4 separate regions of the Homo sapiens genome follow, and all the other regions are linked to region 3. Evidence: fine-mapped expression QTL. A gene starts in region 3. Each other region holds a variant in brackets. All regions are shown on one strand. Distances are from middle to middle.

Region 1 (8,132 bases), 190 kb after region 3:
GCTGGGGTCTATTTCTTTCTCTGACCCAATTGCCGCCTTTGATGGCAAAAACTCAGTTGGTGTCTTATCACTGCCTTTAAGGACGAACAGAGGAAGGAGGTTTTCTTATTAGGGTACAGTGAGCAGCAGAAAAAAGCAATGGTTGGCTGGATTCAGTGGCTCACACCTGTAATCCTAGCACTTTGGGAGGATGAGGCTGGCAGATTGCTGAGGTCAGGAGTTCGAGACCAGTCCGGACAACACGGTGAATCCCTGTCTCTACTAAAAATACAAAAATTGACCAGACATGGTGGTGGGCACCTGTAATCTAGTAAGCTAGTTGGCAGGCTGAGGCAGCAGAATCATTTGAGCCTGGGAGGCAGAGGTTGCAGTGAGCCGAGATCACGCCACTGCACTCCAGCCTGGGTGACAGAGTGAGACTCCATCTAAAAAAAAAAAAAAAAAAAAAAGCAGTGGTTTGAAAAAGTTACTGGTGATTTTTACTATCTGCTCACTTTTTTTTTCTGGTAAGTGTAAAAATGTTCTAAAAGTTATTCATTTAAAAGAATTACTGCAATGTGGGCTTGGTGGGATTCAAGTGTTACTCTTACGTCTTTATCTATGAATGTTAGCGAATGTGTGATTAGGCCAGTGATCCTAGAACTTTAGTGTGCATGAGAATTACCTGGAGGGTCTGATCCAACATGGATCGCTGGGTCCCATTGTCAGTTTCTAATTTAACAGGTCTGGGTTGAGACCCAAGAATTCATGTGTCTAACAAGTCCCAGGTGATGCTAATTAGCCGCAGATAGGTGTGGTGTGGGAAAGCCCGGCAGAATACCTCGCCTGCAAGGGGGACTCCCAGGCCTCACTTCTATGGGGAGGGGGCCACATAATTGCCAGGAAAGACTCTGAGGCTGGCTTTCCATCGCTGATCCGGACACTTACAGAGCCCTCCTCCAGCAACAAGCCCAGCAATTGGTTGCTAAGGAACTGGAGAGTCCGCACACAGCCTCTCTTGCTTGGCTCTGTTTTGTGTCTCGCACCCTGAGGCCTGAAGCAGATGACAATTCTGAGCTTCTCAAGTCTCAGTTAAAAATACCTCATTTGCCACAGGCCAGCGGTGTGCTCACATTTCCCAGGTGGAGTGACTCCCTGGACCTGCGGCTGCCCTGGTGGAAAGTCTGTAAGCAGATAACACCAGGTTAAAAATAGCCCTGGGGAGGCCCCTCAAAGCTGTCACACTCAGCTGCCCACGTTGGGTAAGCAAGGCAGAGTGGGGAGGGATCTTTCAAGCTAGGAATGACTGAAGGACTGTCTGGCTGTGTCCAGTTTCATTCCCTAAAGAGGTTAGGACAAACTTGAGAGTTTAGCGTTCTCTTTCCCCTTGGCCTTTGTGGTTTTTTGAATTCAAAATCTAGACTTGGATACACAGCTCTAATCTGGCCTGTGGTGCTTTTTATTCTGCCCTCTTCTGCAGAACAATAGAATCATAACAATAGAATTGAGTTTCCATCCTGTTTGAAATTAAAACAAAGAAGGTGAACCTGGGGCATGGTGGCTCATGGCTGTAATCCCAGCACTTTGGGAGGCTGAAGGGAGAGGATTGCTTGAGGCCAGGAGTTTAAGACCAGCCTGGGCAACATACTGAGACTCTGTCTCTACAAAGCAAAAAAAGAAAGAAAGAAAAGCTTTTCCTAAGGCATCCTGGTGAGAACGTGAAGTGGCCCCAACAAAGGACCTGCAAGATCTCACCTGGGTGTGCCTTGGTCAGTGGTCCGAGTTGTTTTATGACAAGCTCAGCTTACCTGTTTGGCCTCCTGGTAGCACTGTGTGTGTATTTTTTTTTTTTTTTTTCTGTTGTTGTTTAACACTACCTCTATTAACTGAATGCAAATAAGAGGAACAAAAATGCTCTTTGAATAAGAAACATATATTCCTAACAATATTCTCAAATCATTTCATGTCAGCCACTCCTAAAAATGCTCTTGTATTGTTATTCTCCTTTATATATGCTTTAGGAGAAAAAAGGAGTAAAAAAAAAAAAAAAAGGAATAGCATTGATTGCTTTCCATAGATTTCAAAACTTTGGATTTTCCTATTCCTTGCTCCTTGGTGAACAACTGAGTCCTGAATGGTTCAGTGGACAGAGTAAGGTGGGTTCTAAAGTGTGGGGAGGGACAGCAGCACGTCAGCCACATCAACAAGGACAGGTGGCCAGCAGAGTATGTTGGTGCCTAAGCAGGGTAAGGATGGTGTGTGTGGAGGTCAACCTAAGATGGGGTTCAGGGTCTGAGTAGGAGGAGGAAGGTGTCCATGCATAGGAGAGCCAGGGCAGAATGAGCACGGCGTCTGGGACAGGGTGAGCATGGCGCCCACATGGCAGCTGGGGCTGGGACATGGGAAATTAGTTACAGACTGGGGGATTGATCAAGCAATTAAATGTATTAACAATAAACCAGCTTTCTCCCTGTTGGAAAAGGGGTTAAAAGTATAGAAAGTATAGTAGATCTGGACCTCTGTGATATGGGATTGAAACTGGAGATATGTGTATAAATATCTGGTTTTCAATGTGTAAAGATAGATATAGAAATAAATACAGAGGCCTATGTGTATGTGTACATATGTGAATGCACACACAATATAAATACATTTTTCCATATAGCTCTTTCTGCTGAGAGAAACTGGGAACAACACCACCCCAGGAACAATGAGCACATCATATGCATACCAAGGGGCCCTCAGATCTTGTTTTTTAAATGTCATTTTCTACAAAAAGGAACCAGGATCCTTGGAGAAATGGCTGATTCCAAGGGTGATGCAAGGCTAGTAGCAGATGAATTCAAAGCATCTTGTTCCAAAAAGCAAGGAAGTGCTCAAAGAATGATGGGGCATGTCACAAGGACACAGCAGCCAGCTTTAATGAACTTCCATTGGCCAAATGGAGGGCAAATTGAGGATCTAAGTAAATTATGATAGTAACAAATTATAAACCATTGAATGAAATAGGAAAACAGTAGTCCATGCTTATGTAAGCGAATAAAAAAAGAAATGGGGCCGGGTACGGTGGCTCACGCCTGTAATCCCAGCACTTTGGGAGGCCGAGGCGGACAGATCATGAGGTCAAGAGATTGAGACCATCCTGGCCAATATGGTGAAGCCCGTCTCTACTAAAAATACAGAAATTAGCCGGGCATGTTGGCACGCGCCTGTAGTCCCAGGTACTTGGGAGGCTGAGACAGGAGAATCGCTTGAACCCGGGAGGTGGAGGTTGCAGTGAGCCGATATCGCACCACTGCACTCCAGCCTGGCATCAGAGCGAGACTCCCTCTCAAAAAAAAAAAAAAGAAATGGAAAGTTTGAAGAGATGGTATATTAACATGGTTTCAAAGTACCTCTCCACAAAATAATGTTACAATGGGGAGGCTTGACCCATCCCAACAGTATCATGTGTTGGATATGACTGTCATCAATAAAAGGACAAATTGATAGGATTCAATGAGAAAAATGCAACATCACTTTTGTGTTATTTCTCCCAAAGATGTCTGAATTTAATCCTAAACCACAACTGAGGAACATTCTACAAAACAACTGGCCTGTAATTTACAAAACTGTGAAAGTCATAAAAGATAAGAGAAGACTGAAGAAGACTAAAGAGACGTGAAAACCAAATGTAATTGTGATTCTAAATTAGATCCTTTTGGTAGAAGGGGTATTATTGAGACTAATGGAAAAACCAGTGGGGTCTGAGAATTAGGTGGTTGCAATATATCAATGTAATCTTCTCATTTTAATGGCTGTGTTGTGTTTAGGCAGGAGAATGTCCTTGTTTATAGGAAATATCCATTAATATATTCTGGAGCAGTGAGGCATCTGGTTAGCAACTGAGTATCAAACGGGTCAGAAGAAAAGTCAGAAGAAAATGGGTCAGTTCCTTATACTGTACCTTCAACTCTTCTGTAAACATGTGTGTTTTAAATTTTTTAAAAAGGAAAAAAGTAAATACATTTTGTTTAATAATTTCAGGAGATATTTCACTTTTGCATTTTTAAAAAATCTACCCTAAGACAAACTTTATTTGTAGTCATGGACATTTTTTCTTTTTGAAAGTAGTGAACAATTTAGTATACTGTTAATATACAACTTAATCTTAAATGAAATATCTTTCCCCTAACTTCTTCAATTGAAAATAGGATTATTTATAATCCCTTAATTCACATCCACAATTCTTAATTGTGTTTCCTTTGAAAAGGATAAAAGTTGATACATGAAAGCTAGGCAAGTATTAAACATTTATAGAACTCTTTTAAATTAGTTTAGTCTGTTCTCATTTGGATCTGGAGGTTTGTCTTTTCATAAGCAAATTAGGTGCATCTATAATATACATAGTTTAAAACATTTATCATTTCTATGTTTGGTTTTGTCTCAAAGTACAGATAACTTTAGCGCTGGGAAGAAATGAGACAATCATTTAAAAAATATTTTCTTGCTTGGGAATACCAACTGTGGAAAGACGTCAAAACAAAATTTAAAAATGTGATGGATGGAACAATGGGATCTACACTCTCAAAAGCCTTCTTTTCTTTTTATCAACTTCTTATAATTTTAGAAAATGTTACATAATTCTTAATACCTTGAACTCCGATCATAAATATTAAACATTCAGACAGTTTTTTTTATAAGTATGTATTAA[C/A]ATATTATTTAAAATATTTAAAACCATCAGTGGAAAGAAGCGGGGAAGGTAAATTATTTGATTATGACTGAAATAATAATTCTAATATTATATATATATAAGTACCTATAATAAATATTAATTAATATTCCTAATCATTGAAGTATTTTCAACATGAGACTGCTCTCTGTTGTAGTTAAATTGAACATATTTTAATAAAAAGGTTGAGGTCAGTTTGTAAGTTCATTTTGTTTTTTTTTTGAGATGGGGTCTCGCTCTGTCGTCTAGGCTGGAGTGCAGTGGCATGATCTTGGCTCACTGAAACCTCTGCCTCCCGGGTTCAAGCGATTCTTCTGCCTCAGCCTCCCGAGCAGCTGGTACTACAAGCACACGTCACCACATCTGGCTAATTTTTGTATTTTTAGCAGAGACGGGATTTCACCATATTGGCCAGGCTGGGCTTGAACTCCTAACCTCATGATCCGCCTGCCTCATCCTCCCAAAGAGCTGGGATGACAGGCGTGAGCCACCACACCCAGCCATGAGTTCATTTTTCACATTGCCATAAATTATTTATGCTGTACTTTCTATAGCATTTTTTAATCATAAAAAGTATGACTCAATCTATAGCATTAATCACAATAGTAATTAAATGAATATTTGTGTAACAATTGACTCTATTTTTCCCTTGATAGTTCGTGTATTCCATAAGGACAGGGACTACTGACTTGTCTATATTCTATTTCTACCTCTTAGCACAGTTTATCAGATCACTTTCTCATGTGTTTTACATTTTTTATTGTGAGCTCATTTTTCGGGCAGGGGGCAGTTTCGGAAGTGCAGAGTGGTTTTGGTTTGCTTCTGATAGGCACCCTAGTAGAATTACCAGTCTGAGATCTACTTTTATATTAATTTCACAGCTTGGGAATTCTACACTTGCTGTACAATGTAAATTTGTACAGCAAATTTTTCATTTCTCATAAGAGCTTTTTATTGTTTTCACTTTTACAGGGATGCTCTTTTTTAGTCCTTTCCTTGGGCTAAGTGGAGCTTTCTAACTTCCTTTTCACTGACAGTGTAGCATTGTGAAAGTCCTGGATTTATTTGAGGTTCTCATTTCCAGCTCCTAACCTAGGCCTTTTCTCAGGTCTCTTTCTTGGCATTCAAACCCCAGACCCAAGCTCCTAGTCTGACGTCCAAGAAAATTTCTCCCCTCACCCTCATTATTTCCCTCTAACCCTAATTTCCAGGATGTCTTAGCCTCAACTTTTACTGTTCTGGCTTTCAGTTTCCCTTTCTTTTCTTGCTCCTAGAAATTCCTCTCTCTTTCTTTTGACTGCCACTATGTATTTAAACTGGCATGAACAATAGTTGAAACCATGGATGGTTCCATTTGAAAGAAGAATGTGTCGGGAGGGGAGGAAAGTGACACTTTCCGGAGTCAGGCACTTTTATACTCCGGACATTTCCCAAACCCTGGGAGATGGGGCTGCTTGTCTGGCTTCAGGATTGTAATAGCAGTTTCAATTAGGATCCCCCTGGATGGTCTATAAAATTATTGGGAGCATTCTGTATTTGGTAGCATTCTGATGATTATAGGTTATGAAAACCTCTTAGAACTGGCTAAACTGACGAAGGGGATTTTATCTTTGGCTTATTTGATGTCTCACAGATCCTAAGGGCAGGAAAGCAGGGACTAGAATTTGGAGGTAGAATTTGGAGGTAGAAGGCTGGTGGGAATTAATGGAATTATGGGCATCAAGGTACACAGATGAGATGCAGGATGCCTCTGATCTCTGATTCTGAATCAGGATCTTGTGAAACCCTTATCCAGTTAAGGCTAATGGGATCATTTCTCCTCTCCCGTTATCCTTCCCATTTTTGGGAGACTCTGATTCCCTTCATGTCTCTCGCTGCTTCTGTCTCCTGCTTTTTTGCATAGGAATGGTTGGTTCCTCATATTAGCCTTTATTACTCCTCGTAAAGAGATTGTCTTTCCCTGGCTATTTTTGTCTCTGTCCCCTCTTCCTCTAGGAAGGCCCTGTTGAGTTTGCAAGAGTTTAACTTCCTTCTTAATTTAGTCATTTCCTATCTATATTTTCTGTAGGTTCAGTAATTTTTGCTCAGTTTGCTTTTAGTTTCTCTTTGTCTTCTGGCCATGATCTTTGCCAACTTGCTCTTCTAGACTTCCTTTGTGAAGTCTCCCATAGTGAGAAATATGAGTAGATTTTGGGTCTGCTGAATGCTTTCATGTTCAAGTAAATCTTGTCTACCATTATCCTCCTGAGTTGGCTAATTCCTACCCAGAAGGTGTTCTCCTCTCAAATCCGCATCTAACCTAGGCTTGGACTCAATCTATTATGGGTTGCCCAGCTCCCTTTTAAATATTTTTCATTTTTGCTATGTCTTCTCTTTTTCCTAATTCCATAAATTTTCTATTATATTACACACACAGTACTTATGTACTCACCTATAATAACTGTGTCAGGCTGAAACTTGATACGTAAGAATTATTGGATAATTTTATGTTGATTTTCCAGATCTTACCCTGTTCAATATATCCAGATTTTCAAAAGCTGCTTGGCATAGTTGTCCAATCTTTTTTTTTTTTTTTTTTCTGTTTTTGACAGAATCTTTCTCTGTCACTTAGGCTGGAGTGCAGTGGTATGATTACATTTCACTGCAGCCTTGACTTCCTGGGCTCCAGTGATCCTCCCACCTCAGCCTCCCAGGTAGCTGGGACCACAGGAGTGCACCACCACGTCTGGCTAATTTTTGCATTTTTGTTAGAGACGAGTTTTTGCCATGTTGCCCAGGGTAGTCTTGAAAACTCCTGAGCTCAAGTGATCCACATTCCTTGGCCTCCCAAAGTGCTGGGATTACAGGTGTGAGCCACCTTGTCTGACCAGTTGTCCAATCTTTTAGGCATGGTTCCTCAGTTGTTTTTACAATCAAATGTCTATCTGCAGCTTTTAAAAAACTGCCTTTTAGTAATTTATCACATCCTTGACCTTTTGGGGACAGACAATTCATTTGTTTTCTGAGAACTTGTCTTTCTTCCTCTGTTTGATTTCTTTGGGTTCCAGCCATACTTTATTGTCTAGTAGTTATCAGAAGCATCTCTCTCTTTCCAATAAACTCTTTAAGCGTATTAGACCTGGGTGCAACTCCTTGCTCGTCTATATCTATCCACACAGACCTTCAGAGTCTCACTTTTTCCTTCTTATCTGCTCAGCCTACCTGCTCAAAACTCAACCCTTCTCTTAAGGAAACTTATGTCTTCCTCTAATTTAGTAGTTTAGTCAACACTTTTTCTGAAAGTAAGACTGAACTATGTTTTTCAAACCATTCCAGATATTTTTTGACCTCCTGAGATAAACATTCTGTAGAGACAGGATGTTTAATGCACAGGCCTTTGAATTGCCTTTTTAGCCTTTGCATTTGCAAAAGTTTTATTGAGTTGTGTTCCTACTTCACCCCA
Region 2 (8,132 bases), 56 kb before region 3:
ATTTTTCTACAACTCAATATAGTTTAAATTTTGAGCATCCTTTTTTGGGGTGGTGCTAGAAATATAATCACAGGGAATTTGGGGTTTCTCTCTAGCTTCCCTAAGCTTCAAAGTCCAAGTTCTTGTGTCTCGTGGGGCTATAGTACTGGTAGTGAGGTGGCTTACTGGTCCTTTTGTTATCTGTGTGCATGGCATCATTGCAGCCACCATCCTCCGGTCTTGTCTTTGGCTGGCCATTCAAACAGGTAGCTGCTAACACGTACTGAATTTTTTCTGCAAGATTCATTCAGAACTGGCAATTTTTTTTTTCGACAGAGTCTTACTCTGTCACCCAGGCTGGAGTGCAGTGGTGCTCTCTCGGCTCACTGCAGCCTCGACCTCCCAGGCTCAAGCTATCCTCCTGCCTCAGCCCCCCGAGTAGCTGGAACTACAGGCACATGCCACCACGCCCAGCTAATTTTTTATTTTTGGTAGAGGCGGGGTTTCACCATGTTGGCCAGGCTGGTCTTGAACTCCTGACATCAAATATCCACCCACCTCACCTCCAAAAGTGCTGTGATTACAGGTGTGAGCAGTCTCACCTGGCCGGCGTTCTTTATGATTACAAAACTCCATGGTGTGATCTCAGATCTCATTTACCTAGGCACATCCACAGCCATTTGTTCACTGGCATCTTTCTGCCTTTCCAAGGGCTCCACCTGGGGAAAAGAGCACTGGTTCTGTGTCACTTTTAAATCCCACCAACCTAATGTGGGAGTAGGAGCTTCTTTCCTAAAGTACTTGGGCAGCCCTTTAGGGTACAAGATACAGGACCCTAACCCACTGATCTACTAATGTCTAGTACCCCCCTTTTCTTTCCCTTCTATTTCCCCCATTCCTCTTTTTGGGGGAAAAAGATCCCCCCAAAGCTCAGGGGATCTTTTTCTAGATAGTGGTGGTAATAGGGGTGGTGGTAGTGAGATCTCACTCCTGTTCATGGCCCATTTTCCAAGATATTTTGTTAATAACTCAATCTTTCTTCTCTGAAGAGCCTAGACTTGAAAAATTCAAAATCTATAAACAGTGGCTTTTCTCTCTTTGTTTTCTGTTAGTCATTCTTTACCTAAGTAGAATGACCTCTGACTCAATAAAGTGCTGACAGGTGGAGGGAGGTAGTGTATTTAAAAAAAAAGTGAGAGTATAGGGGCAGCATTAATAAATGCTGTGAAAACACTATATTGTATATTTAAGGGGCAACAAGCACAAGTTTATTTTTGTCTCTTCTCCTCAGTGTCTGACATTTGGACATCCCGGTGTACAATTCTCAAAAAAGAGAGAGGGTTCAACTTGTTATTTTTTTAAGGAGACGGTAGTTATTCTTGGTTTCTTTCCATATAGGGCCATTCTAGTGCATTAGAGATTTGTCATATCAGAAGCATTATGTTCATATACTTTTACTTTCCCCCCTTCTGTATGCCCCACAAAAAAACATGCACATGGAAGAAAATTCGACATCCAACTTTGAATCATTCATTTCCATTTTAAGAAGAGTGGTCTTTGTTTTCCCCACCCCTGGGAAGAGTGGTCTTTTATTTCCTTTTTATAATCTTGGTTGTTAGAGCCTTTAGCAGGCTTCTTTGTAGAGTTAAGAATTTACCATAATTAACATAAACAGTGAGCCATGTTTTGAACTGAAGCAGCATTATGATTTTCAGAGGTCCACGTAAAACAAATACAATTGAGACTTTGTTTGGGGAGGAAACATTATCAGGGACACTTTCACACTCTACTAACAAGAAGGCATCCACAACCTTTCTGGGGTAAAATACTTTGTCTTTTAGCAACTTAGAGTTAACTAAAGGGATTTGAAGTAAATAGAGCTTGGAGGTAATTAACACAATATGCTTTGAATCTGATAAACTTAGGTACGTTTTGGATGATGAGTATGTCAGTTCTTTTGGAGCCAAGTTCCCAATCAAGTGGTCCCCTCCTGAAGTTTTTCTTTTCAATAAGTACAGCAGTAAATCTGATGTCTGGTCATTTGGTGAGTGCATCTGATGTTCACTTGCTGGAGCTTGATTTAATAAAATGGGCAATGTGTTATTTTTAACTTTGATTTCCTAATTGATATAGCATTTTTTAAAAAGTCTTCTTGTAATTGTGCTTCCTTCTGTGTGTTCTAACCACATCCCGACTGTCTTTGGCAACTGGTGTCACATACCTTCTTACATAAGTCTGCCTTTTGGATCTTTTCCTTCCTCCATGGGCACTCACTATAAAACCATAACAAAGAGTCTACTGATCTAGAAAACAAACTCAGATAAGTTTTCCACTCCGCAGAGGCTTGAAGGAAAAATGATCTTATGACATTGTTTAGAGTGTAATTAATAAACTTAATTGTCTAAACTGTGAAGCAGGTTGACTATTTTCCAGTTGTTCAGTTGTTAACCTGAACTTAAAACCTGAGTTTAAAAAATGGTGGCATCTCATTTACTTCCTTAACTTTAAAGTTTGTGGAATTTAGACATAGGCTTCCTTGGGATCTATAAATTGATATTCATATTGGATAATGTTCTTCATTGAGAAAGAGACACCATAGACCCACGTCCAATGAAGTTTCGGGGTTGATTTTCAAAAAATGGTAATAAATATGCAAAAATCTATCTATCCTCTTTCACCCCAAACTTCCTGGAGGCTTGTGGGTTCTGGGTCCTCAGAAGGGTGTCAGTTTTATTGTCTACAATAAGGTTAAAACTGGGCACAGTGGCTCAGGCCTACAATTCCAGCACTTTGGGAGGCTGAAGTGGGAGGATTGTTTGAGACCAGGAGTTCAAGACTAGCCTGGGCAACCTAGCAAGACTCTGTCTTTACAAAAAAAAAAAAAAAATTAGCCAGGTGTGGTGGCATATACCTGTAGTCCCAGTTCCTCGGGAGGCTGAGGCAGGAGGATTGCTTGAGCCCAGGAGTTTGAGGTTATAGTAAGCTAGGATCGTGCCACTGTACTCCAGCCTGGATGACAGAGCAAGACCCTGCCTCAAAAAAATTAAAACATAAATTTAAAAACATACAATAAAGTTAAGCTTGTGTCATTAATCTCATTAGCTCTCCATGGACATATGATAGTCTCAGCAGGTGACACTTGAAGCTCTACTGAAGAGCAATTAGGTTGTGAGACCACATCTTAGAGACCAATGAAGAGCAATATAACGACCTCATCGAAGGTTGCCAAACAATTAGAACTCCCTGAATTTTACCTACTTGTCTCCCTCACTGAACAGTGAGCTCCTTAGGCACATGGATTGATCTCACACTTATAAAATCTCCAGGCCCCAGCAGAGGCCTCGCCTCTCATCAATGTCTAGTAAATATTTGTAGAATAAGTGAATAATTAAATGAACTCAAATTAGGAGTTCTTGCAGGAGTTTCACTAATCAATCAATCAATGATTATTGGACATCTACTTATGTACAGAGCCCCTGCTAGATATTCTGGGGCTCTGCCCATCAGTCTAATCTTTTAGCAGAAAGAAGGGGACACATGCCATTTACTGGCTGAAACTCTTGGCTAAGTAGGCAGCAGAGGCTCACATAATCCTGTCAGTTTCTATGGAATGGCAGAAAGGTTCATTGATTTCAGGATGCAGGAACGTGACTGCTGCTTAGAAATGAAAATGCTAGGCCGGGCGTGATGGCTTACGTTTGTAATTCCAGCACTTTGGGAGGCTGAGGTGGTCGAATCACCTGAGGTCAGAGCTCGAGACCAGCCTGGCCAACATGGTGAAACCCCGCCTCTACTAAAAATAGAAAAATTAGTTGGGCGTGGTGGTGGGCACCTATAATCCCAGCAACTCAGGAGGCTGAAGCAGAAGAATTGCTTGAACCCGGGAGACAGAGGTTGCAGTGAGCTGAGATCATGCCACTGCACTCCAGCCCGGTAGACAGAGGTTGCAGTGAGCTGAGATCATGCCACTGCACTCCAGCCCGGGCGACAGAGCGAGACCCTGTCTCAAAAAAAAAAAAAAAGAAAAGAAAATGCTACTGGCATTTTCTCCTGATAGGAGAGGCAATCAAGACCCATGGACAAGGAAAGGCATTGTTTTCACTTAGATTATTTTCAGGTTACAGGCCTCTTTGAAAACTAAAGTGAACATGATTTGCTTCCTTGACAGAACCGCTGTTATTCAGGATGGTTATAGCCCAAAGCCTGGAGCACAAAAATAATGCCTTGTAGTTTGAAATTGTTCTTTCAGTTCCCAAGCAATCATTTCTCTCTAACCCCTTGTTTTCCTGCATTTTTGTTTGCAGGAGTTTTAATGTGGGAAGTTTTTACAGAAGGAAAAATGCCTTTTGAAAATAAGTCAAATTTGCAAGTCGTGGAAGCTATTTCTGAAGGCTTCAGGCTATATCGCCCTCACCTGGCACCAATGTCCATATATGAAGTCATGTACAGCTGCTGGCATGAGGTAAGCATATGTTACTTTCCTATGAAGGTTGGCAGTCCCAGCATCTGAGAGCAGACCTGATTATCACAAACATTACTTCAGAACTCTGTCATGGCAGGAAAAGGCATCTGTGTCTTGGTCATGATCCTGAGAGTCTGAAGTACTATCTCAAACTCACTACAAAGTCATGAATCCATTTTGTTTTGAACAATGGCCTTTTATCTGAGGAATTCAGTGCATTTTCTGAGTCTTAT[C/G]TGTTTGAGATTGGTTCTTGCAGAAACTCTTGGTGTTACTCAAGCCTCAGTGATTAGATGTTTTATTAGCTTTAAGAATTAATGGGCCGGGCGCAGTGACTCATGCCTGTAATCTCAGCACTTTGGGAGGCCGAGGCGGGTGGATCACCTGAGGTCAGGAGTTTGAGACCAGCCCAGCCAACGTGGTAAAACCCCATCTCTACTAAAAATACAAAAATTAGCCGGGCGTGGTGGTGCATGCCTGTAATCCCAGCTACTGGGGATGCTGAAGCAGGAGAAGAATCTTGAACCTGGGAGGCGGAGCTTGCAGTGAGCCGAGATGGCGCCACTGCACTCCAGCCTGGGCGACAGAGTGAGACTCCATCTCAAAAAAAAAAAAAAAAAAAAAAAGAATTAAATGATGGAGGCTGTGTGTGGTGGCTCACGCCTGTAACCCCAGCACTTTGGGAGGCCGAGGTGGCCAGATCACTTGAGGTCAGGAGTTTGAGACCAGCCTGGCCAACATGGTGAAACCCTGTCTCTACTAAAAATACAAAAATTAGCCAGGCCTGGTGGTGCATGCCTGTAATTCCAGCTACTTGGGAGGCGGAGATAGGAGAATTGCTCGAACCCAGGAGGCAAAGGCTACAGTGAGCTGAGATTGCGCCACTACACTCCAGCCTGGACAACAGAACAAGACTCTGTCTCAAAAAATAAATAAATAAATAAATAAGCAAATAAATAAAAGAATTAATGGTGGAAACTAAGGGTAGAACCAGGCTTGTTAAATTTCCAGGTTGAAAAAGAAAGATGGTGTTTCCATTTACTTCACTCAACTTTGCTTTGTCTTGCTTTTCCAACGCTAATAGTAATGGGTTTCATCTGTCTTCTGGCAGTCAGGACTCCTGCTACAGATTAAACTAGAATAGGAATGGAGGCAGAAAGTGTGTCAGGAACTTCCACTCAGGAAGAAATCTCTCCAGAACTTAGTTTTTCTATTTGTTGAAATGCCAAGCTTAGAAATAAAGCCAGAGGGGCTTCTTTTCCACCTCTGGGCACTGACTCAACACACCCCTGCCCTTCTCAGTGAAATTCCCTTTGATTTTGAGAGCTTTGGTCTCTTTCCAGCTGACAGTTTCAGCTGGAAATTGCAGCTTGATGAGAAGTTTCCTCCTGGCTGAAAAAATAAAGCACTTGATTATCAATCCACAAACACTAGAATATTGAATATTTTAAGAGTGATGTGGTTATTCATATTCCAAAAGCATTACATTTATAGAGAGCCCCAATGTATGAAAATATTTTACATATATTAACTACTTTACAAGGAATCTTGAAAGACATAGAAAAATGCTCAGCAAGCTGTAAGAAAAAAATGTTCAGAAAAATGTTCAGTGAGTAGTAATAAGCAGCCGTTTTAGGAGCATCTTTGCAATAACAATGTAAGTAGCTCAGAAGTATATGTTGTGTATGAAATAATACACACGTGTGTGTGTAATATAATGCTTATTGAGATGTTATATGTAAGTGGAACTGAGACATAGAAGGAGGAAGGGAAGTGATAAGTAGGATGCTGTCAGAAGGACCATGTAAACAACATTTGTCTCAAATTGCAATCAGAACATTGATTAATACAATGGTGTGGTTATGTCGATTTATTTGTTTGAAAAAGTTGATTTGGCCGGGTGTGGTGGCTCATGCTTGTAATCCCAGCACTTTGGGAGGCTGAGGTGGGCGAATCACGAGGCTGGGAGTTCGAGACCAGCCTGGCTAACATGGTGAAACCCCGTCTCTACTAAAAATACAAAAAAATTAGCTGGGCATGGTGGCGGGCACCTGTAATCCCAGCTACTCAGGAGGCTGAGGCAGGAGAATTGTTTGAACCTGGGAGGCAGAGGTTGCAGTGAGCCAAGATCCCACCATTGCACTCCAGCCTGGGTGACTGGGCCAGACTGTCTCAAAAAAAAAAAAAAAAAAAGAAAAGAAAAGATTGATTTATTTTTGAGACAGAGTCTTGCTCTGTTTCCCAGACTACAGTGCAGTGGCACAATCACATCTCACTGCAGCCTTGACCTCCTGGGCTTACGCAATCCGCCCAGCTCAGCCTCCTGAATAGCTGGGACTACAGTGATGTGCCACCATGACCAGCTAATTTTTTAAAATTTTTTCTAGAGATGGGGTCTCACTTTGTTGCCCAGGCCTCAAGCAGTCCTCCTACCTTGGCCTCCCAAAGTGCTGGGATTACAGATGTGAGTCATTATGTCAGGTGCAAAAGTTGATATTGCCTACAGCTTTACCCCATGTGCTTAGGGCATTAGAGTCAAACGTGATTATGCTATCTTTGAGAGACAAATTTCAGGATTCATGCGCAGAAACAGGCTCCTCACAGAGCTCCACAATTTATGCCCAGAGTCTCAATAAGGACCCTCACTTGCACTTGTGCTGTCTTCTGCTCTGTTTATTTTACTGATGCTCTCTGTTTATAAGCCATGAAGAGGGGTGTCTTTCCGCTGACCCTACTGTCAATGACCCCTGTGAGAATGTGGCTACTATGAGTAGCTCTGTTTCCCATGGTTTTAAAAGATGCTGACAGTGCCATCTCTTCTTCCTCTTGGAATCAGAGCTAAACCACACCCCTAAGTGAAGTAGGAAAAAATGCTCCAATCCTTGGCTCCATGACCAGGGATATGGGGTCACTTATGGTGAATATCTTCCTTTAGAGTTGCTGACTCAAAAACTGTGCAAAGATCACAGGCTTTTAAAACTTTTTAAAATGTAAGAATATTCAGCAATCATTTTTCTATGTGTGAGAGGGACTTCCACACTCTTATTTTTCTGTTGACTGAGACTGAAAGCACAACCTGTGCCCCAAGACCTTCAAAGTCCCTCATGAAAACATGCCTTTTGCTTTCTGACTGAAATCCTCCTTTCTATAATGGCTCAGGTGTCATAGATACCCTGAACTGAGCTTGGGAGCCTGGTATGCTAGATGCCCCTTCTCCCAGCCCTTTCTTTACCTCACACATGTCAAGTCATTCAAATATATCTCTAGGGTCGTGGTGTCCTAGAGTACTTTCTGAGATGCTGAAACGTTCTATATCTGTGCTGCCCAATATGGCAGCCACTTCTGGCTATTGGGTTCTTGAAAAGTGGCTAGCACGACTGAGTAACTGAATTTAAACATTTATATAATCTTAAGGAATTTAAATTTAAATAGCCACATGTGGCTAGTGTTTGCAGGTCTAGCCGTTTTATTTTTGCAACATTCTCTAACATTTTCATATTCACGCCTCACTCAACTGCCAATCATGCTGTGCTATGTCAGTCAGTCAAGATATCTTTCTCTTCCTTTTTGTGAAGAGCCAGCCTGGATTCAGGTCTCTGCCAGCAAGTTCCAGAGCTGGTCTCTGAGTGATCCTTAGCCTATTTATGCCGCAGGTGGCAATTTTTTGAATTTTTGCATGAGTGAAAAATCAGAC
Region 3 (8,028 bases):
GTCATGGTTTTTCATCTCAACTTACAACAAAATCTCAACTCCTCACTAACTTTGAACTTTAAAGCTTCTCATGCTCTGAAACTGGCTCGTCTCTGACATCATATTGCATTACTCTCCCTCTCACCCCTCTCTGAAACACTAATCTTCTTTTCCTTCATTCAACAAATATGTATGGTGTACTACCTGTTGGGCATTTTCTAGAATCTGGAGATAGAAAAATGAATACAACAATGGTCCCGCTCTCTTATATTCCAGTGGGGGCAGATAGGATTAACAAACAAATAACTATACGTATGTTAAGAGTGCCATAGCAAGTAGTAAAAGCAGCATCAAGGAATATATTTTTTAAAACAGGATTAAACAAAAGAGCCTCTCTGCTAAGTCTAAAAGCAGAAACCCTGAGGGGTTGAAGAAACTGCAGTCAGCCAGGTTGCCTGGGGTGACAGAAAGGGAGATGGTATGAGATGTGGCTAAAGAGTAGGTGGGAGAAGGATCAGGTGAAATGAACCTTTAGACAAGTAGGTCTGATCTTGTCATTCCTCCTTCCAAAACTCCACAAGGGCTTCCCTTCTCATTCCGAAAAAAATCCAAAATTCCCACTATAGCCTATAAGGCCCTGTGGAATCCTGTCTCCAGCTGCCTAACCTCATTCCCTACTATTGCCTTTTCTTCTGTTCCTTTCATAGAATAAGTTCCTTCTCACCTTAAGCTTTTTAAAAAGCAGCTGTTCCTGAGCCTGTTACAGAGTGCTGGCTGGCATAGCTAGCTTCTTCTGAGTGAGAGGACTAAGCAACTCAGAGAGGCCTTTCCTGCCTTCCCAATCTAAAGGAACCTCTCAGTCACTTTCCATCATATGTTCCCAATCAAATAGACTTCCTCATATGGCTTAATTACAGCTTTATAACAACCTTCATACATATTTGCATTTGTTTCTTTTAAAGATAATTTTGGATTAGAGACTCTTTTGAAGCATCTATAGCTTTAAAAGTCAAAACCAATGTGGGGTGGGGGATGGCTCATGCCTGTAAACCCAGCACTTTGGGATGCCAAGGTAGGAGTATCACTTGAAGTCAGGAGTTCAAGACCAGCCTGGTCAACACAGTGAAACCCGTATTAAAAATACAAAAATTAGCTGGGCATGGTGGCATGTGCCTGTATTCCCAGCTACTTGAGAGGCTGAGGCAGGAGAATTGCTTGAACCCAGGTGGAAGTTGCAGTGAGCTGAAATTGCACCACTGCATGCCATCCTGGGTGACGGAGTGGCACTCCGCCTCAAAAAAACAAAAAAAAGTCAAAACCAAAGTATGAAATTAACTTTTTCTTCATGGAAGTTCAACTGGAATGTTCTATCTTCAGATCTCATGACTGACCCCTTGTCATTTGGGTCTCAGCTTGAATATCACTTTCGTAAGGGGCTTTCATTGAATACCCAATCTAAACATCCCAACACTCTTGATACATTACTGCTATTATAATGATCTTTTAAATTACTTTGTTTCTTGCATAGTAGCTGCCATCTGAACAGTAAGGTGCCTGAGAGCAGGAACCTAGTCCTAGAGTCTGGGACCAGACTGTCTTGCAGATCCCTCTATCCCAGCACCTATGCCAGTGCTTGGCACATGGGACTCTTGTTATTTGAATGAACAAGTGAAAAATTGAGTCTTTGTTTACTCCATGTCAAGCTCTGAGTGGTGTAGTTCATATGTAATCCCACCTGCACCTACTCTTCAGAACTGTAAACTGGAGGGATGACCCCCAATTTATAGACAGGAAAATGCTCAAGGAAGCTAAGTTACAGCTCAGACTGTCTGATGCCAAAGCCTAATCTCTTCCCACTACTAATAACGTGCATTCAGATTTCTAAGTCTTTCTCACCAGCTTTTCACACAATTAATTACCATGGTTAATCACAGGTATTAAGCCTGGAGCTTAAATGTTTCTTGTTGGAACTCAATGCATAAGCAAAGCAGGAAAAACATCCAGAAGCTCAAACAAGTGGGTGTAATTCATATACCTTCCTTACTTACAGATCCTTGGGTAAACAAGTGTGGGTGTGTTAGTAACTGTCAGATTTGCTGGGTTAGAAATTATTTAGAAAAAGGGCACACAACCTGACTCTCTAGGAAATAATTCTAGATTCAGCTGCCTTAAAATTTTTGTTTTTTAATAGTTTGTGAGTTGTTCAGGCGTTATTGCTCTTTTTCAGAAAAAAAGACTAGAAAATAATTCTAGATCCAGCGGCCTTAAAAAATTTTTTTTAATAGCTTGTGAATTGTTCAGGCATTTTTCTCCTTTTTTTGGTGTCCCTTCTCTTCCTTGCTAGCATGGTTTGGACGAGCTCACTTGTTAAAAAGGAATAAGCTGGAAGAGTCAAGAGGAGAGGAAACTAGGGAAGTTGCGAGCACCTTTGCAAAGGTGTATATGTATATACATATATATATATATATATGTGTAAGGGAACTATATATATATGTGTATATATATAGTAGTTCTTACCATGCCTTTCACTGCCTCCCTTCCCCTTTACTGCATTATCAGGTAAATTAAAAAGCTGCTTTCCCCTTGGTACGGCGAAAACCATCATTTCAATGTATCTACATCCTTCCAGTCGCTCCCCCTACCCCCTTCCCTACTTTTATCGGGGCCTTCTGTATGGAGACTGCAGAAAACCCGCCAGTGTTGCGAACACTTGGCGAAGGGCAAGGAGCCTCGCCCAGAGATTTCACGGGGCTCAGGTGAGAAGCAGTAAGAAGAGCCTGCAAACGAGTGCTCCCGGTTCCAGGTTTCCTCTCCAGTACGGCTCTCGCCTTAAGCAGCCAGAGTGACTGCACAGCGAGTCAGACAGGCTCATGGGTTTGGAGACCTTTTCATTTCCAAGGAAGAGGAGAGACGTGGGCGGCCCAGACTTGCCCAACGCCCACCCCCGCGGCCCCGGGCGCCCAACCTCTCGCGGTGCTCGATCCCCGGGAGCCAGCGCAGGGCGCAGCGCAGAACTCCCACGGGCCCCCCAGGCAGACACGCCCTCTGCCCACCGGGTGACGTCGGCCGCAGACTCTGGAAGGGAGCCTGAGTCAGAGGAAACGTCCTTCTCAGAGGGACTCGGGATTCTTCCCATAGCATCCTGAGTTTCCCCGTCCCACACGCAGCACGCGGTAATTTACACTGGTCGGCCTCGCGAATCGAGTGGGAGTCCCACCTGCCTTATTCCACTCAGGTTTTCCAGCACAGCCCGAATCGCCTAGGCACCCATAAATAAGTGTTGAACGCCTGGCTGGACGGCCGACTGACTGAATGAATGAATGAGTGAACGACTACGTTTAGAGTCGGTACAGCCCCCCTTTCCAGTCTCCGCAAGTGTCCGGGGACCGCCCACCCGGTCTCTTCGCCACCCAGCTGCCAGGTCCCTCGGCTCAGGGCAGACACAAACCTTCTCGGCAGGGCTCTCCGGGCGGCAGCCTCACCTGTGCCCCCATGGCCCCGGGAGCGGGCTTCCGGAACGCGGGCGCTTGCTCCTCACCTGGGCCTCTCCACACGCACCCGCGGCGGGCGGGGCTGCGGGGTCTGGGAATGGGGCGCCCTGACCCCGCCCCCGGGGCAGCCTCCGCCAATGGGCATGGCCAGGCGGGGCCTCAGCGCCAGCCGAGCCCTGCTGCCCGGGGCTTGTTGCGAATTCTCAGGGCCCCCGCAGGCCTGGGAGCGGCCTGTGATAACTGGTGTATCTGGCAGGAGTAGCAGCTGCCCCTTGGCGCGACTGCTGGAGCCGCGAACTAGAGAAACACAGACACGCCTCATAGAGCAACAGCGTCTCTCGGAGCGTGGAGCCCGCCAAGGTAACTCCGGGAATTGAGTGGAGTGGAGGCTGCACTGAGGCCCCCTTCTGGCTCCTCTCTGGTCGAAAAGGCTCCCCCGCTAGAGAGAGCCCTGCTGCTTTTGGAAGCCTTCAGGTGTTAGTTGCTTTGCACCGAAGCTGCTGACTGCTGGGGTTCTGCGCCGATTGCCAGGCTCAAGTTTATTTTGGGGGCTGCTGAGCAGACTTTGCCCTTCTGTGCTGTTATCAGCTTCTGTCGCTGTCCGTCCACGCCCGCTATATCCATCCACTCTCCGTTCTGTCTCCAGCAGGCAACTCCCCCTACCCTGCCCCATTTTCTGGGTCATAGGGGTATTTGAAATAAACCTTTAAGGGAAAAGCAATGCCAAAACTGGAAAGACTTATTTCCACGAATTATTAATAACTAATGTTTATGATATCCTTGTTATACCATACATATGCAGGCACATTATGTATTAATTAAATCTCACAGCAGTCTATTAACGCTCAGTTTACAGATGAGGGATTAGAGGCAAAGAGTGAGGTTAAGTAACCAAACCAAGGTTGGAAGACCTGATAGCAGGTATTTACAAAACAAGGAGTGGGCAGGGCTGGCGGGTGGCTCACCCCTGTAATCACAGCACTTTGGGAGGTTGAGGCGAGTGGCTCTCTTGAGTCCACAAGTTCGAGACTAGCCTGGGCATCATGGTGAAACCCTGTCTCTACAAAAATTAGCCAGATGTGGTGGTGTACTCCTGTAGTCTCAGCTACTCAGGAGGCTGAGGTGGGAGGACGGATGACTTGAGCCCAGGAGGTGGAGGCTACAGTGAGACATGATCGAACCACTGCACTCTAGTCCAGGCAACAGAGTGAGACCCTGTCTCAAGAAAAAAAAAGGTGAGGGGTGGGGTAGTGAACAATTCGGGCTCAAACCCTCACCAGGGAGAACTGGGGTGCCTTTGTGCTCTGGCATTTTAACACTGAGGAAAATATTCTCATGTACTCAGGTAGCCTTTGTTCTAAGTAGGCATGAACAGTGCTATTAATTTTATTACCTAAGAGTTTCATAGCAGAGGCCTCAATCTTGTTTTTCTTGTTCTTAGGCGGATGAGAGAAGAGCTAAGAACAAATTAGTCAACATACCAGTCCAAGGCACCCACTTTTATAATACATATGGATGACTTTGCAGAGAAGGAACACCACGGAGAGTGGAATAGGTGAAAGTTGAAAGCGAGGGAGATTTATGCCAATTTTCCATAACAAGCCTTAAAACTTAGACTTCTTTTTGTTTGCTTGTTTGTTTGTTTGGCTTGGTTTGGTTTTTTTTGAGACGGAGTCTCGCTCTGTCGCCCAGGCTGGAGTGCAGTGGCGCGATCTCGGCTCACTGCAAGCTCCGCCTCCTGGGTTCACGCCATTCTCCTGCCTCAGCCTCCCGAGTAGCTGGGACTACAGGCGCCCCCCACCACGCCCGGCTAATTTTTTGTATTTTTTTTTTTAGTAGAGATGGGGTTTCACCGTGTTAACCAGCATGCTCTCAATCTCCTGACCTCGTGATCCGCCTACCTCGGCCTCCCAAAGGGCTGGGATTACAGGCGTGAGCCACCTAGCCCGGCCCAAAACTTAGACTTCTATTTAAACGTTTTCTTTGGATTTCCAACTTAAAATTTTGTCTTTATCAAAAATTAGTAATGATGGTAAACGTGATCTATGGTGCTTATTTTTTATTTAACAAACACTTGGATAGCATTTACTATGTGGCAAGCACTATTCTAATCTCTTTGTAAATATTTGCTTTATAAATCTTCATGAAAATCCTGTAAGGTAGATACTACTACCCCCACTTTACAGCTGAGGAAATGGAGGCACACAAAGATTGAGTAACTGGCCTATGCACACATAACCAGTAAGTGTGGAACCAAGATGCTAACCAAGAAAGCTGGGCTTCAAGTATGTGCTCTTAACCCATTTGGTAATTGGACATTAAAAAACAAAACAGACTTTAAAAAATGTATCTTTATTGAATTTCAGTTGCATATTAAGGTCTACTTTAGGTAAGAGGCATTTTGTTGTAGTTCTTGCTTTTCAATTCTGAAAATAAAGAGAAAAAATTCAGAAAAAAAATATTTAAACTCATTTAAGACCACTGCTTTTCCAGTTTAAATGTTGCCTAGCAGAAATTTATAATATGTATTTTCCTTCATTGATAATTTCTAGATGACTTTGGGGAATACCGTTATAGTACCACACACTGTCTTTAATGACATAAAGTTGGGGGATATTTATTCCCCCGCAAAATCATGTTGTTTGTTTAACTAAAAGAAGAGCATTAAAAAAATCTCCAACTAGCCCATTCTTTGATTCTAGGAAAATTACTCTTCTGACTCAAAAATTAGAATGCGATAATAACTGAGACCCTCTAAAATGCCAACTTCTGTTTTATTGGTCTTTGTGCTAGGACACTTAGACCCAGGGGTGATGGTCAAAATAAATAATGATTAGTAGAGCCTTAGGGCCTCAAGGGACAAGGCCACAGGTCTTTCGAGCTTGGGGAGGTCTGGGAGGGTTCCTGGTGTGTCAAGGTTAACCCCTGAGTTGCTACATTGTAGGGAGGTCTGTGGTTTCTGGGGCAAGGAATAAGATGACTAGACAAGAGGGGTGGTAGCTGGGGAGTAGAAACCACCTTTGCAAAAATTATATCACTGAGAAAATTTTAACAGTAAGCTGAGTAATTCATCCTCCATCTTGCCTTTCCCTTAATTATTCCTGGGTTATTGAGTTGTGAAAGAAAATCAATAGTGGAGCCCCCAAATCACTAAGCTAAAGGGAAAAGTGAAGCTTGGAACTGCTTAGGGCCAACCTGCCTCCCATTCTATTCAAACTCACACCTCTGCTCACTGACATATCTGATCGCCTCCTTTGGAGAGGCTAGTCAGAAACTCAAAATAATGCAACCATTTGTCTCTTATCTACCTATGACCTGGAAAGCCCCGTCCCTGGTTCCAGTATTCCTGCCTTTGCTTTGAGTTGTCCCGTCTTTCCAGACAGAACCAATGTTCATCTTGCATATGTTGATTGATGTCTCATGTGTCCCTAGAATGTATAAAACCCAACTGTGCTCTGACCACCTTGGGCACATGTCATCAGGACCTCCTGAGGCTGTGTCATGGGGTTGTGTTATCAACCTTGGCAAAATAAACTGTAAATTCACTGAGACCTGTCTCAAATTTTTGGGGTTCACATTTTGGTAACCACAGAGGGATTCTGAGTGGAGATGCCCCTGACCTTTGGCAAACCTCTTATCAGTGCTTGGTACCAGCATGAGCTAATTTTACAGCTCAAACCAATAGGACAATTTGCTGAGGTCTGAGAGCACCCCCTCCAGAGAATCCCTGATTTCCCCAAATTTGGTCAAGATCTAAAGTTTATTTTGCTGTACAACTTCTCTTTTTTGGAGTTTTACTTGCTTCTATCAAGAAAGACAAATTTTCTGTTTCCATGACGTTGGAGTTTGGCTCACTTCCAACAGGGAAAAGGAGTGTTTTTTTTTTTGTTTTGTTTTGTTTTTCCTGCTTCTTGAATGGTAGAGAGCAGTCTATAGCCAGAGACTCGTCCCTAGGTAAGTAACTGAATTGGGGTTTGTCTTGGTTAAAGTTAAGATTAACGACCAACTGGTCTTAATTTCTCCTTACCATTAGAGCACTCAGTTATCATATAAATTGTGCCATTGTTTGTTTTGCCTAACTGTTTTTTGTTGTTGTTGTCTGTTTTTTATTGTTGTTTTGGTCTTTTTCCCATTGGGTTTGATCAACTCTATCCAACTTGATCAGGGTTTGATCAACTCTATCCAACTTGATCAAATCCAAAGGAAAGTTCCAAATTATGGGGAAGAAGGCCTGAGAAGTGGCTAAATTCTAAAAAAAAAAAAAAAAAAAAAAAAAAAAAAAAAGATGGTGTGGTGGGGAGGAAAATGGCCAGCAAAAGGAAAAAGAGGAAGGATTTTTGATTTTGACTACTAAAGGGGCTTTGTTTACATAACACCACCCTTTTTGTTAGGCCAAACTGAAAGCAATGGCTGTCCTCCCACACTGCTAAGGTCCCACCCGATAGCTAAGGTTGTGCCTTTGTTTTTTTTCCTACCAAAACAGCCCTGGGTTTGGTTCCTAAATCAAGCCCTTTCTGGTTTGATACTTGGTACTTCTGAAATAGCAGCAATTTGTCCT
Region 4 (8,132 bases), 100 kb after region 3:
TTTATAGATTCAATGCTATCCCCATCAAGCTACCACTGACTTTCCTCACAGAATTGGAAAAAACTACTTTAAAGTTCATATGGAACCAAAAAAGAGCCCACATAGCCAAGACAATCCTAAGCAAAAAGAACAAAGCTGGAGGCATCAGGCTACCAGACTTCAAACTATACTACAAGGCTACAGTAATCAAAACAGCATGGCATTGGTACCAAAACAGAGAGATAGACCAATAGAACAGAACAGAGGCCTCAGAAACAACACCACACATCTACAACCATCTGATCTTTGACAAACCTGACAAAAACAAGAAATGGGGAAAGGATTCCCTATTTAATAAATGGTGCTGGGAAAACTGGCTAGCCATATATAGAAAATTGAAACTGGATTCCTTCCTTACACCTTACACAAAGATTAACTCAAGATGGATTAAAGACTTAAATGTAAGACCTAAAACCATAAAAACCCTAAAAGAATACCTAGACAATGCAATTCAGGACACAGGCACGGGCAAAGACTTCATAACTAAAACACCAAAAGCAATGGCAACAAAGGCCAAAATAGACACATGGGATCTAATTAAACTAAAGAGCTTCTGCACAGCAAAATAAACTATCATCAGAGTGAACAGGCAACCTACAGAATGGGTGAAAATTTTTGCAATCTATCCATCTGACAAAGGGCTAATATCCAGAATCTACAAAGAACTTAAACAAAAGTACAAGAAAAAACAACCCCATCAAAAAGTGGGCAAAATATATGGATAGACGCTTCTCAAAAGAAGACATTTATGCAGCCAGCAGACATATGAAAAAATGCTCATCATCACTGGTTATCAGAGAAATGCAAATCAAAACCACAATGAGATACCATCTCACGCCAGTTAGAATGGCAATCATTAAAAAGTCAGGAAACAACAGATGCTGGAGAAGATGTGGAGAAATAGGAATGCTTTCACACTGTTCTTGGGAGTGTAAATGATTTCAACCATTGTGGAAGACAGTGTGGCGATTCCTCAAGGATCTAGAACTAGAAATACCATTTGACCCAGCAATCCCATTACTGGGTATATACCCAAAGGATTATAAATCATGCTACTATAAAGATACATGCACAGGCATGTTTACTGAGGCACTATTCACAATAGCAAAGACTTAGAACCAACCCAAATGTCCATCAATAATAGACTGGATAAAGAAAATGTGCCATATATACACCATGGAATACTATGCAGCCATAAAAAAGGATGAGTTCATGTCCTTTGCAGGGACATGGATGAAGCTGGAAACCATCATTCTCAGCAAAATATCACAAGGACAGAAGACCAAACACCACATGTTCTCACTCATAAGTGGGAGTTGAACACTGAGAACACATGGACACATGGAGGGGAACATCGCACACAAGGGCCTGTTGCAGGGTGGGGGGCTGGTGGAGGGATAGCTTTAGGAGAAATACCTAATGTAAATGACAAGTTGATGTGTGCAGCCAACCAACATTGCACATGTATACCTATGTAAGAAACTTGCACATTGTGCACACGTACCCTAGAACTTAAAGTATAATAAAAAAAAATTGTTTTGACGATAACAATACCTACTTCATGGTTATTGTGAAGATTAGATGAGTAAAAGAAAAAAGGACCTAGAAGAATGCTGGCACATAGAAAGCACTCAAGGATTGCTGGTCACTGTTATTAGCTATTGAATATTTGAGGGAACAGAAAAAATTTCTCAATAAAGTTTGACATGGAAATTTAGATAATATGCTAGTCCAGCTCTCTGGCATATAACATAATTCTAAGAAGGATCTCTCTTTTTAGTAGCCACTCAATACTTCTTGGACATTACTCAGTGATAATTACTATATTCTCTCTCAGAGTATAACAGCTCCTTTCCTGTATGTGAAAACCCCACTGAAGAAAAGTCTCACTTTAGGGTTTTCAAACTTTGAAAGCTGGTTGCAGCTTTAAACTTACAGTTCTTATACAAGTGCAGCATTAAGAGAGTTGCTGTGCACCTGTTAGTTTCTAGCCAATGAAGTTATATCATTCTCAGAGATGTTATTTCTTTTCTTCTTTTCATTTTTCTGAGACGGAGTTTTGCTCTTTTGCCCAGGCTGGAGTGAAGTGGCGCGATCTTGGCTCATTACAACCTCCGCCCCCTGGGTTCAAACAATTCTCCTGCCTCAGCCTCCCTAGTAGCTGTGATTATAGGCACCCACCACCATGCCCAGCTAATTTTTGTATGTTTAATAGAGACAGGGTTTCGCCATGTTGGCCAGGCTTGCCTCAAACTCCTGACCTAAGGTGATCCACCCGCCTTGGCATCCCAAAGTACTAGGATTACAGGCGTGAGCCACCATGCCTGGCCATGGGATGTCATTTTTGAGTTTGGTTAATGTACAGGCAATTCTGCAATATCTATGTTTAAGACATTAAAAGCATGGTTTCTAATACTAGACTACTTAGGATTGAATCTTGGCTTCACTACTTCCTAGCTGTATGATCAAGGGCAAATTGCTTAATCTCTCTGTGCCTCAGTGTTCTCAGTTGTAAAACGGGGATAATAAACACGGTTACTGTGAGTACCAAATTAGTTAATACATAACGTAAAACACTTTAAACAGTGCCTGACATCTAATAAATGCTATCTAAATATTATAATAGAAATTTATGGTTAAAATAGAAGAATTAACTAAGTTGAAGGACTGTACAATAAGCCATCAATATGTTTCTCAATCCCAGACAGACCCCAGAATGAATTTTTGCAATCTACCTGTCAGTATATATGCACATGTATCTTATTGGAAAACTCAGCAAAATCATAAGATTTAGGTCCTGGCCCTCAACTATTTTCCTTAACAAAATCTACTTTAGGGAGATGCTGTGAAGGTAAAAATTAGCATGTCCCAGGGAAAGCTCATTGCACACTACAAAGGACTATGACAATAACAGGCTTTAGATTTATTTTCTACATTGGCTCTAGCATTTTAGAAGGGTACTTTTACTACTCAAGCCACTTTCCTGCAACTCTCCCCCGAATTTCCCTCCTTCACAGTGGCCAACCTCAAAGCGTTTTCAATGTAAGTGCCTTTCCTGTTAGTGAGACTTCCCTATGAAAATAAATAGTTTAAAGGTTGTTGGAGCCTAAAACTCACTAAGCC[T/C]GGAGAGAGATGTGACTGTCATCTGAGTTACACGTGGTTACAACTTCTGTTTCTCAGATTATAGATTAACTTGCTTTCTTATTTTTCTTGTTCTATACAATGGCTAGAGAGAATTAAACGAAGTTAAGGACAAAAACTTCCTGCCTTCTTAATGATCCTTATAGATTAACTTCTGCTTTGTTGCCCCGGTTTGCTTAGACCAGATGACAGAAAATCCTTTATGAAAAATGTTAAATGTACACTTCCCAAAAAGAAACACTGTCTATAATCAAATTGTTGTAACTATTCTCTAACCTTGTATGAGAAAATGCTGTAATCCTGCTAAAAAACCTCTCAGTTTCTGCCTATATAAGTGAAATCTTAAATCTCTACTTCGGAACGCTGACTCCTTCCTTGGAGTCGGTGTTTCTAGGTAGGCTATCCTCAAACTTCGCGCTTTTGATTATTTTACATTGACACCTCCTGTCATCCGCAAGCTCAAAGGCAAGGCTAATAAAAGATGGCAGAGAGCCAATTAGGGACAGAGCCATGTAATCCTCATACCCAGGTGAGTTTAGGGCAGTCTTGCAGAAGCAGAAGCAAATTGTGGGGTCACGAAACCCTCCGGACCCGCCCGCCTCCACCACCACGCGCCCCTATGACCTTCGACCCCTCCCTAGCCCCAGAGCACGCCGGGAGTTGTAGTTCCCAAAGGCCTGTTCGGGCCAGCGCAGGCGCTTGGGGTTTCCCTCCCACCCAACCCCCGCACTTTACCGGATAAGGAAGCGGCCCGTGCTGCCACGCAGTCGCCGGAACGCGGGCGGGGGCTTCTGGGAGTTGTAGTCTGTTGGGGGCGTGCGCAGTCGGTAAGGAGACGTAGCTTTCCGTGGGGTGTACCACTGCAGTTGGTTCCCGGCGGGAGACGCAGGGTCAGTCTGTGACTCTTCCCCTACCACGCTCCCGCAGAGGCTGAGGAGGCGGTTTCGACTTCTCCTCCGGCTTTCTGTCTTCGGCACTGTGTGCTTCTTGCTCCGCGGTTTATTTCTGTACCTAGTCCTCCCTCCCCTCTTCGGTCCATCTCCAAAGCCCGGGCTTGGCGGGGACTCGCCCTCCGGTAAAGGCAGGGCCGCGACCTCCTAAAACCCGGTCGCCGCCCTGCAGGAACCTTCCTCACTCGGCCCCTCACACCGGGTTTCCGCACTGACCCTCCTTCGCCTCGGTCCTCGCTGCGCTCACCTCCTTCCACTCTTTTTTTTTTTTTTCTCCTTTGCAGGGATGGAAGCTTCCTGGCGCCAGGTGGCCGGTGGCCGAGGCCGATCCCGGGGACGGGCCACTGCCGCCCCCTCAGGAAATGGAGTCCATCTCCGCGGCGCCGGAGGAGGGCGAGAGAAGGGGTCGGTGGGCGCAGTTCCTTCTGGCACCAGTCCCGGAGGAGTCGCGACCACGGCGGCTGCAGGGAGCAGGCACAGCCCCGCAGGATCCCAAGCCCTGCAGACTACCGCAGCCAGCGGTGAGAATGGCTCCCGCCCGCGTGCTCACCTGGATGCCTCCTAAGGCAGTTACTAGTCAGGACCGCCTCCGCCCTCGCCTTCTTTCTTTCACTGCTTTTCCCCTCGTTCGGGAGTTTGTTATCGGGCCCACTTCTCCAGCCTTTCGGGTGGCTGCTCTTTTCGGCACTCTAGGTAGATTTCCATCGCACCTCTTTCATCTTAATTTTAGGTGGTATTACCTTTGTTACTTCCCTCCACTCTTGCCTACTTGAATCTCCAGACCATCAGTTGTAAATTGTGGCCCGGTGTTCTGATTTGGTCTATAATGTTGTTTGGTTAACACAGAGTTTTAAATGTGGATTGATTGTCAGCGGTTGTTTGTCGTTTTTAAAAATCTGGTTAACAACCTTGTGGCTTTAGTTATCTTTGTGCATGGCAACAGTCAGCTCGGCTGAGTCACAGAAATCCCATTTAGATTGGACTTGGGCATTCCATCTCACATTCTCTCTCATTTCTGGAGCCAGGTGTCATTTGTCATCTTTACCTTTGCCTTTGTTTCTTGACTTGTCTTATTCCTTGTAAGCACTTGAGCTTTTGATACCTTCCTTGACTGTAGTTCCTATTTACAAATTCCATGTCCTTCTGTGGACATATCTGGTGTTGCCTCCGATATATCAATACTTTTCATCCAAGACCATGTTTTCGTGGAGCCAGGGAGGACTTACACACAATTGTGCATGGGGCCGAGGGAATAATCCCTGAAATCATTTTATTTTTGTGTTTGGAATGCATTTCAGGATACATTTTTTTGGGGGGTGTGGAGCAGAATTGAGTATCTTGAATGATTTTTCTCCTAGGCTAATTTGAAAGGTAGGTGGTATTCTCTTAGCATGCAGTTAATGGCCGTGATGATAAGGTATACAATATGGAGACGTGTGAACAGGTTTGGTAAACTTTTTTTTTTTTTTTTTTTTTTTGAGACAGAGTCTCGCTGGTCGCCCAGGCTGGAGTGCAGTGGCGCAATCTCGGCTCACTGCAAGCTCTGCCTCCTGGGTTCAGGCCGTTCTCCGGCCTCAGCCTCCCGAGTAGCTGGGACTACAGGCGCCTGCCACCACGCCTGGCTAATGTTTTGTTTTTTGTTCTTTGGTTTTTTTTTTTTAGTAGAGACGGGGTTTCACCGTGTTAGCCAGGATGGTCTCCATCTCGTGGGTAGAAGGAAAACAAGCATTCTGTCCGGGCGCGGTGGCTCAAGCCTGTAATCCCAGCACTTTGGGAGGCCGAGGCGGGCAGATCATGAGGTCAGGAGATGGAGACCATCCTGGCTAACAGGGTGAAACCCCGTCTCTACTAAAAATACAAAAAATTAGCCGGGCGGGGTGGCAGGCGCCTGTAGTCCCAGCTACTCGGGAGGCTGAGGAAGGAGAATGGCGTGAGCCCGGGAGGCGGAGCTTGCAGTAGCCGAGATTGCCCCACTGCACTCCAGCCTGGGCGACAGAGCAAGACTCCGTCTCAAAAAAAAAAAAAAAAGAAAGAAAAGAAAAAGAAAACAAGCATTCTCTACCTGGACAGTTGAGATTTGGCTGTAAGAAATAATACGTGAGAAGGTTGTCTTGTCAGCTTCTCTTTACTTTGAGATGATGTTAGGTGAATACATTTATCAGGTTATGAATGTTCTCATTATCTCTGTCCAGTTCAGCCTGTTTTCTTATGTATCTTTTAAGTGCTAATTTCCCGTATATTAATGACATTTATCATCTCTTTTGTGACAAGTTTTGAGTTATATATCTCATAGCCAGTTCTTTTTTCCCAGTACTCAAAGCTTGCTAGGTAAGCATGATACACATTTTCGTCGAGGTTTACTTGAAATACTCAATTTGTTTTGTTAATAACCCCTAACCAAACTGGCTGCAATAAGAAAAGGAAAATGTTTCATGAGGGAACATAATCAAGTACGAATATACCACCCAAGATAAGAGAGCTTATCTTGGTAGTGGCTTATCAGTTTTAAGTATAATGTTAATTTTAAAATAGTCAATCAGTAAATTTAAAATCCTCTCAAGATGGGAATTCATGAACTCAGATCAGTTCTGCAGGTTTGTGGCTCCTTTCTTAAACTATGTTTGCTGTCCGTAAGAGCTTATTAACACTTAGTGCTTGAAGAAAATCCCTGTGGTCCTTGCTCTCAAGAAGTTTGAAGTTTCTTTGGGAGTATGTGCAGTGAAGTAATCTGGTTTTGTTTTGCATGATTAATCAAGTAACAAAATGAGAAGTACAGGTAGTGCTGAATAGTGGAAGAACGAATCCAAAATTAACATTCTTTTTGGAATGAAGTTGGAAGAAACATGTTTTCCATGTTAATACTTTGTGTGGATTAATGTAAAATATGTTTTTTTGTGTGACCACAAGAAGTCCATAATAAAGGCAAAAAGTTCTTGACCTAAGAAGCCGATTGTAAATATAGTGGGTGCATAGTGAGTACTGTTGGTACAAACTCTTTGGTAGGGCTGGACTGGACTGGGCTGGGCCGTCGTGTCCTATCCTACCTGTTGTTCAGAAGACGGTAGTTTGAAATACCTACCTTCCCTGATTCTTTATGTGCTCACTGTGGACATGTTCCCTCACTTCTTAAAAATTACTGTGCACAATGTACTTTAAAACATCTTAATTTTTGTTAGTCCTTATTTTGAAGTTGATCACCAGTATTTTGATAGTTTTATTGTATTTTCATATTTTTTTTCTTGATTTGTTAATCACCGTTATCATAAAAATTTGCTGCATTTTAGCAGGATACTTAGAAAAGTGAAAGTTTTTGTTGTGGTATTCTCTTTAGTTGTGTGTCAAGGAATTTGAAAATACTTTTCTCGTGGATTACAGGAAGGTAGAATGCTCCAAAGGTGACTTTCAAATGTGTGTTGTAAAATGATATATTAGCACATTATGCTTTTCTTTTTGAGAGATTGTTTTGCAGAAATGAAACTTTTTTCTTTTAAACAGAGCTAATGTCTCAGAAAAAATTTGAAGAAATCAAGAAAGCTAACCAAGCTGCAGCCAGAAAACTTGTTGAAGAACAGTTTAGCTCTTCATCTGAAGAAGGAGATGAAGATTTTGAAGGAAAACAGGGAAAAATACTTGCAAATACGTTTATAACATACACTACTCAGACAGGTACTGATCTTTTAAATTTTGACTTTTGACGTCAATGAAACTGTATTCCTGACATTTTTTTGGTAATGCCTTTGTTCTATATGGAATAGATTTTATATCTTAAGATGAGCACTGTATGTTATAGAGTTGAATTTTTGTACACTTTGGTATTTGAGTTATATATTGTGTAACACTAATTTTTCTATAAAGCAAATAGAATGGCAGTGGCTCTTTTATAGCCTTAGGAGGCCTTTGTGTGTATTTAATTGGCATTTCAGTAGAATGCTTGGATGGGGCTGCTAAAGCTCCTGAGCGGTGGACTGGGGCAAGTTTTTTCTGGTTGTGATGATTTGATTG

The links.
Region 1: its variant is fine-mapped to the expression of NIPAL1 in blood mononuclear cells (TOPMed, PIP 0.91).
Region 2: its variant is fine-mapped to the expression of NIPAL1 in testis (GTEx, PIP above 0.99). The same link has a PIP of 0.9 or more in adrenal gland.
Region 4: its variant is fine-mapped to the expression of NIPAL1 in whole blood (TOPMed, PIP above 0.99).

The regions. Positions count from the first base shown.
Region 1 is chr4:47,818,015-47,826,146 of GRCh38, reverse strand. The region is part of intron 1 of CORIN (corin, serine peptidase); the gene reads left to right. Among named protein-coding and RNA genes, the nearest start is that of CORIN, 16 kb to the left of the region's middle. RefSeq lists an enhancer at 112-1,698. The variant C/A (reference allele first, on the strand shown) is at 4,673.
Region 2 is chr4:48,067,826-48,075,957 of GRCh38, reverse strand. It overlaps TXK (TXK tyrosine kinase), which reads left to right. Exons shown (of 15, transcript NM_003328.3): 13 at 1,905-2,023; 14 at 4,284-4,441. Among named protein-coding and RNA genes, the nearest start is that of NIPAL1, 55 kb to the right of the region's middle. The variant C/G (reference allele first, on the strand shown) is at 4,675.
Region 3 is chr4:48,012,285-48,020,312 of GRCh38, reverse strand. It overlaps NIPAL1 (NIPA like domain containing 1), which reads right to left and starts at 3,541. Exons shown (of 6, transcript NM_207330.3): 1 at 3,428-3,541. The coding sequence starts at 3,473. CNGA1 (cyclic nucleotide gated channel subunit alpha 1) reads left to right here and starts at 3,632. Exons shown (of 11, transcript NM_001379270.1): 1 at 3,632-3,830. RefSeq lists silencers at 2,906-3,065, 3,356-3,685 and enhancers at 3,450-3,951, 7,796-8,028.
Region 4 is chr4:47,910,488-47,918,619 of GRCh38, reverse strand. NFXL1 (nuclear transcription factor, X-box binding like 1) reads left to right here and starts at 4,037. Exons shown (of 23, transcript NM_001278624.2): 1 at 4,037-4,255; 2 at 4,415-4,651; 3 at 7,626-7,796. The coding sequence starts at 4,417. It overlaps LOC101927157 (a long non-coding RNA gene), which reads right to left and starts at 4,393. Exons shown (of 3, transcript NR_125879.1): 1 at 3,916-4,393. RefSeq lists enhancers at 4,057-4,286, 3,797-4,482, 4,483-5,169. The variant T/C (reference allele first, on the strand shown) is at 3,163.